2 linked regions of the Homo sapiens genome follow. The protein of the gene in region 2 interacts with the protein of the main gene of each other region in a pairwise test. Each region holds a gene or a part of one and is shown on either strand. Other genes may lie near its edges.

The links.
Region 1: the proteins of SELE (region 2) and ATXN3 interact in binary tests that used the Homo sapiens proteins (3 or more experiments, as listed by UniProt).

The regions. Positions count from the first base shown.
Region 1 is NC_000014.9:92,086,083-92,089,582, reverse strand, and holds part of ATXN3 (ataxin-3 reference isoform), read left to right. Parts: intron 1-765; coding exon 766-853; intron 854-3,500. UniProt on the Homo sapiens protein: Deubiquitinating enzyme involved in protein homeostasis maintenance, transcription, cytoskeleton regulation, myogenesis and degradation of misfolded chaperone substrates.
Region 2 is NC_000001.11:169,731,280-169,735,231, reverse strand, and holds the start of SELE (E-selectin precursor), read left to right. Parts: upstream 1-1,152; 5' UTR 1,153-1,261; intron 1,262-1,571; 5' UTR 1,572-1,619; coding exon 1,620-1,656; intron 1,657-2,233; coding exon 2,234-2,617; intron 2,618-3,289; coding exon 3,290-3,397; intron 3,398-3,952. UniProt on the Homo sapiens protein: Cell-surface glycoprotein having a role in immunoadhesion. Mediates in the adhesion of blood neutrophils in cytokine-activated endothelium through interaction with SELPLG/PSGL1. May have a role in capillary morphogenesis.

The sequences.
Region 1 (3,500 bases), on a different chromosome or scaffold from region 2:
GCGGATCACAAGGTCAAGAGATCAAGACCATCCTGGCTAACATGGTGAAACCCTGTCTCTACTAAAAATACAAAAAAATAGCTGGGTGTGGCGGCGTGCGCCTGTAGTCCCAGCTACTCGGGAGGCTGAGGCAGGAGGATGGCATGAACCCGGGAGGCGGAGCTTGCAGTGAGCCGAGATCGCGCCACTGCACTCCAGCCTGGGCGACAGAGCAATACTCTGTCTAAAAAAAAAAAAAAAAAAAAAAAAAGAGTATTTAGCAGAGGCCAGGTGCAGTGGCTCATGTTTGTAATCCCAGAACTTTGGGAGGCTGAGGCGGGCGGATCATTTGAGGTCAGGAGTTTGAGACCAGCCTGGCCAATGTGGCAAATGTGCTGTCTCTAACTAAAAATACAAAAATTAGCTGGGTGTGGTGGTGCAGACCTGTAGTCCCAGCTACTTGGGAGGCTGAGGCAGGAGAATCACTTGAACCTGGGAGGCAGAGGTTGCAGTGATCCGAGATCATGCCACTGCACTCCAGCCTGGGTTACAGAGTGAGACTCTTCTCAAAAAAAAAAAAAAGTATTTAATAGTGATAAATCTGCAGTATTCTCTTGTAGTTTTTAAGATCATATTATTCAGTCAAAGAAAAGAGCTCAACTTGAAATATTTCCAGAGTTTAAACAATCTTACTAAGCTTTGATGGGTTGTATCTATTCTTAACATGTGAAACTTCCTTATTACCTATAATATACACTAACTTAAATATTGACAATTTTTTTCCAGTGGTTTAACTTGAATTCTCTCTTGACGGGTCCAGAATTAATATCAGATACATATCTTGCACTTTTCTTGGCTCAATTACAACAGGAAGGTAAGTAACGGCTGAACATTTTGTAATGTTACCTTTCGAAGTAGTTAAATAACCAGGCACATTAGATGACAGTGTGATAAAACTGTTTTTCTGGCAGTGGCAGTGAAACAATCTTTAGTTTTGACGTGGTGATAGGCTGTGATTTGGGTGACGCTGTTCAGTTAGAGTTCTCACTGACACCTGGCCCTTCCTCTTCTGAGGATGCTGCTTTCTTTGCAGCCCTTCTAAGTAATGGCTTTTTCTTTTATACATCACATATCACACGGCTGAGAGGAGGGATAGATGTTTTTCTTCTTTGCCTCTTCTAGGCCACTGTTCTTCCTTATAAACTCCAGTTTCTTTGAAATACATGCCCCTAACGGCTGGGCACGGTGGCTCACGCCTGTAATCCCAGCACTTTGGGAGGCTGAGGCAGGCGGATCACGATGTCAGGAGATCGAGACCATCCTGGCTAACACGGTGAAATCCTGTCTCTACTAAAAATAACAAAAAATTAGCCGGGGTGTGGTGGCGGACGCCTGTAGTCCGAGCTACTCGGGAGGCTGAGGCAGGAGAATGGCGTGAACCCAGGAGGCGGAGCTTGCAGTGAGCTGAGATCGCGCCACTGCCCTCCAGCCTGGGCGACAGAGCGAGACTCCGTCTCAAAAAAAAAAAGAAAAGAAAAAAAAAAGAAATACATGCCCCTAGATTAAACTATCCCTTGTCCTTTTGCACTCATCCACAAGTCTCTTTTCATCAGTGATTTTAGGATCTGACTCGTTGTCTTTTTCTCTACTTCAACTACTTTTATCATTCTTAATTATTTCTGTATCGTCAATCAATCCAGTACCTGCCTCTTAGTTTCAAAATCACTTACTCTTGCTTAGCTATTACCAGTAATCATAACCACTGTCAAATCTCAATTGCAAGCATATTACTCTTTAACTACCACCTCCTATCTTTAAACCATGTTTTGTCTGTTTTTTTATTCCAGCCATTCTTTAAACCCTACTGTGGGGCCCAAGCATTTCCTTTATACGCATTCTTCCTTTCTTCTACTGCTTATTTTCTGTAATCCGTCATCATAATCACTCCATTGCATTCTTCAACGTGTTTCCCCTCTCTCCCTCCATCATACTTGAATGACAAAAATCTCAACCCTGGTTAAACCACATCTTGGCCTTGTCCATTCCTGTACCAGAGTAGCTGGACGTGGCTAAAAAATAACATAAAACATGATGATTGGTTTTACTTTTTTCTTAAATGATCTATCCATCCATTCACCCATCCATCTATCAAAGTGACTAGGCCTATTTCTGAAGCCCAGGCTGGAGTGCAGCAGCATAATCACAGCTCATTGCAGCTCCAAACTCCTGGGCTCAAGTGATTCTCTTGCCTTAGCCTGTTGAGTAGCTGGGACTACAGGCTTGTGCTACCACACCTAGCTAAGGTTTTACTTTAAATTTATTATAATCACAAAATTCAGATGAGCCTTTAGTGCTGTCTGATATTTCTACTATGTTTTCTTAGTGATGTACCACCCTCCAAGGTGTTTATAAAAAATTATGTACCACTCTCCAAGAAGTTTATAAAAAATAATGTGCCACCCTCCAAGGTGACTAATTTCACAGCTTATGTCTTTAAACCTTTAAGCACTTTCCTCTCCCTTACACACCTTCCTTGTGGCTTTCCGTTACATTCTGCTGAGAACATAGAAGCAATTAAAATTATGTTCTTTCTACCAGCAAATTTATCAATTTGCTTATATCTTCACCTGTGCTTTGAGCCTATTTAAATAGATGAATGGTCCCCTACCTCTAACCAAAACCAGTCCCTCACTTGTGGGCTGGATCCCAGCTCTTCTCACCTACTCAAGATGTTCCTGCTTTCATCTCTCCACTCTCTTATATAATCAGTTCCCCCCCCCTTTTTTTGTAATATTCCTATAAGCAGTAAAATAAGCTTTTTATTTCCATTGATTAAAAATAAAAATCCTCTCTTAATTCCATGAAACTCCAGCTGCCTCCCCATTTTTATTTTTTCCTTAGGATTGTCTCTAGTGTGCCTTCTCCTTTTCTTGAACTCTGCCTCCTGGGTTCAAGCGATTCTCCTGCCTCAACCTCCCGAGTAGCTGGGATTACAGGCGTGCACCACCATGACCGGCTAATTTTTTTTTTTTTTTTTTGAGATGGAGTTTCCCTCTTGTTGCTCCGGCTGGAGTGCAATGGCGTGATCTCGGCTCACCGTAACTTCTGCCTCCTGGGTTCAAGCGATTTTCTTGCCTCAGCCTCCCGAGTAGCTGGATTTACAGGCATGTGCCACCATGCCTGGCTAATTTTGTATTTTAGTAGAGATGGAAGGGGTTTCTCCATGTTTGTTAGGCTGGTCTCCAACTCCTGACCTCAGGTGAGCCGCCCACCTCGGCCCCCTAAAGTGCTGGGATTACAGGCATGAGCCACTGCGCCTGGCCCCGGCTAAATTTTTTTTTTTTTTTTTTGTATTTTTAGTAGAGACAGGGTTTCACCATATTGGCCAGGTTGGTCTCGAATTCCTGGCCTCGAGTGATCCACCTGCCTCAGCCTCCCAAAGTGCTGGGATTACAGGCGTGAGTCACCTTGCCTAGCCATCTTTTAGTAATGGTATTTGGAGATCACAATTTGAGTGCTGG
Region 2 (3,952 bases):
GAAGGATATAAAAATTATCCCAAATCCTGCCATCCAGAGTTAGTCACTGTTAACATTGTGGAAGAATTTTTATTCTTTGCACATTAACATTTCAAAAATTTTAAACAAAATTTTGACCAATTAAATATATATATATAGTTTTCCGTTTTATTTTTTTTCTTTTCTTTTCTTTTTTTTTTTTTTTTTTTAAGACAGAGTTTCACTCGTTTCCCAGGCTGGAGTGCACTGGCGTGATCTTGGCTCACTGCAACCTCCACTTCCCGGGTTCAAGCGATTCTCCTGCCTCAGCCTCCCGAGTAGCTGGGATTACAGGCATGCGCCACCATGCCCAGCTAATTTTGTATTTTTAGTAGAGATGGCGTTTCTCCATGTTGGTCAGGCTGGTCTTGAACTCCCGGCCTCAGGTGATCCGCCTGCCTCGGCCTCCCAAAGTGGTGGGATTACAGGCGTGAGCCACTGTGCCTGGCCTCCTTTTTATTTTTTTCACTGAACAAACCATGAAACTTTCCCAGATGTAAATATCTATTTCCCATTTTTCTTTTTTTAAAATAAGGCATTATTTTAACCATTTGAGTGTTAGATATTATTTTTAGATAATATTTTAATTTAGGCATAACTGCCGTGCAAAATCTGAAGATTAATATCTACCTTGTGAGTCATTCCTCTGTGAGACAGTGCATGTTAAATATGTTGAATTGGCAGGTGAAAAAGGAAGAAAAAATGAGTAGTGATTGGTTATCCACAGCTATGAATGAGAAATTGAAGGTAGTAGACTATGGATGACAAACCTATTCTTGGTTTCCTTCTGTTTCTGAAATTCTAATTACTACCACAACTACATGAGAGACACTACTAACAAGCAAAGTTTTACAACTTTTTAAAGACATAGACTTTATGTTATTATAATTAAAAATCATGCATTTTTGTCATATTAATAAAATTGCATATACGATATAAAGGCATGGACAAAGGTGAAGTAGCTTCAAGAGACAGAGTTTCTGACATCATTGTAATTTTAAGCATCGTGGATATTCCCGGGAAAGTTTTTGGATGCCATTGGGGATTTCCTCTTTACTGGATGTGGACAATATCCTCCTATTATTCACAGGAAGCAATCCCTCCTATAAAAGGGCCTCAGCCGAAGTAGTGTTCAGCTGTTCTTGGCTGACTTCACATCAAAACTCCTATACTGACCTGAGACAGAGGCAGCAGTGATACCCACCTGAGAGATCCTGTGTTTGAACAACTGCTTCCCAAAACGGTAAGTGCAGAACGCTTTATAAGGGCAGCCTCGGGCCATGAAACACAGATATGCAAAAGGCCTTCTAATAAAAACCACATCTGTACAAGCTCTTATTGTATTGTAGCTAAAACCTGTCTTTTCTCTTTGACCTAAATAATGAAAGTCTTAAAATTTGTTTATTTATTTGATTAAACTCTGAAATAAAGATTATTGCACTAGTGTCCTTTGCCCAAAATCTTAGGATGCTGCCTTAAACATCATGGTAGAATAATGTAACTAGCTACCCACGATTTCCTTCTTTAATTCATTTTGTGTTTTATCTCCCCAGGAAAGTATTTCAAGCCTAAACCTTTGGGTGAAAAGAACTCTTGAAGTCATGATTGCTTCACAGTTTCTCTCAGCTCTCACTTTGGGTAAGTCAGTGCCATTAGACCAAGATTTCTCATTCTCGCACTATAGATATTTCAGACTGAAATATCCTTGCTTGTCTGGGGCTGTCCTGCACAGGATATCTGGCAGCATCCTTGACCTCTACCTGCAATGTGTTCTTCCCTGGGCTTGGGGTCATTTACTTTACCTCTTGGTGTCTCCCTTTCCTTAAGTGTAAAGTGTGGATCATAATGACCTATTTCCCAGATGCATTGTGAGGATTCAATAGCATGGTTCATGGAAAGTACCTCATACAGTGCTTCTTGGTGCATACTAAGTGCTCAATAAAGCTTAGTTATTCTGATTATTATTCTACTACAAAATGGGTATACTATAATGTTGTGAGTGAGTGTGGATAAGGTACCTAGTGGGTGGCAGTCACAAAAGAGATAAACAATAAGTCGCTGTTTCTTCATACGTACTTCTTACTTTTGAAAAGATGAGAAAAGTCTGGGCCATGTCACAAACATTGCCAAAAATAAGACAATAAAAAGCACAGTTGTCAGAGTTAAACCACAACAGTACCAAACTCTACCATTTCTTTTCTTTTTCTCCCACTAGTGCTTCTCATTAAAGAGAGTGGAGCCTGGTCTTACAACACCTCCACGGAAGCTATGACTTATGATGAGGCCAGTGCTTATTGTCAGCAAAGGTACACACACCTGGTTGCAATTCAAAACAAAGAAGAGATTGAGTACCTAAACTCCATATTGAGCTATTCACCAAGTTATTACTGGATTGGAATCAGAAAAGTCAACAATGTGTGGGTCTGGGTAGGAACCCAGAAACCTCTGACAGAAGAAGCCAAGAACTGGGCTCCAGGTGAACCCAACAATAGGCAAAAAGATGAGGACTGCGTGGAGATCTACATCAAGAGAGAAAAAGATGTGGGCATGTGGAATGATGAGAGGTGCAGCAAGAAGAAGCTTGCCCTATGCTACACAGGTAGGGAGTTTGCGGCAGCAGTGGGAGGTAGTTTCAGTGTGTGGGCATCTTGGCAAATTTACAGCATGCAAAAACTGCTCTCTATTGTGGTCATTTTATGTTCCAAAAGATTCTGTTTAACTGCTAAAGTTTCTCTCTTTTGCTGTTTTGTGTGAATGTGGGCAAGAATATGTGGATATGTATATATATACACACACACACATATATACACACACACATATATGTGTGTGTGTATATATATATAGCCTACAGCATTTATATACATTTTATATATATACATACACACATATACACACATATATGTGTGTATGTATATATATAAAATATATATAAATACTGTAGGCAAATATGTAGTTCTTTACATATAAAAATGCACACACACAATACATATTTTAATTACTTGTTTATTTGTGGTAGGGGAACTGTCTTCAGAGTTTGTGAAGAAGTAAATTTTCTACGGTAGGTGCCAGCCACAGCTATACATTAGCATCAAGGTTTAGGATAGGTGGGCCTGAAACTCAGATTTGGAACTTTGTAAAACACTTCAGTTAAAGTCTATGGCACTCTGTAGGACTGCTGATGTCTCTGTTGCACACTGTTGATTCTAAAATCAAAGGCACTCAGTATAAGCACAGTAATAGTCCTCCTCATCATGCTTTGTATTTTCCGTAGCTGCCTGTACCAATACATCCTGCAGTGGCCACGGTGAATGTGTAGAGACCATCAATAATTACACTTGCAAGTGTGACCCTGGCTTCAGTGGACTCAAGTGTGAGCAAAGTAAGTCTGGTTCTTGCCTCTTTCTTCACTTGAGATGGTAGCACCATCTCACGTCCTAGCTGGCATTAGAGTCAGGTCTGCATGCCTTCCCTTCCCTGGTGCAGATGGTGTCATATGGTGATCGTGAGCTGAGACTATGAAGTCAGACCCTGCTGGGTTTGAGTCCTAGATTCACCAGTTATTTATTTTGGCACCTTGACAAGATAGTTTAACTCTCTATGTCAGTTTTCTCATTGTAAAATGAGGATAATAATAGTGTGAACTTCATAGGCTCATGGTTACATGGTGCCTGGCACACAGGACACATTCAATAAACTGTAATTCTGTGTCCCTGCGAGGAACATGTACTCACCTCATCTAGGTGGTAACAAGACGTTGCAGTAGAAATGAGTGAGTTACAGAGTCCAGGGTATCTTGGTTCATGCTCTGGCCTCTGGCTCTGTAATGACTAGCCGTGTAGCATGGAGCAAGTCACTTGAATGAAATGAGGTCTCAGTTCCTAAATTTGTACATTAAGAGAGTTAGATGAGCTTCTCTCCAAGATTCCTTAGCACA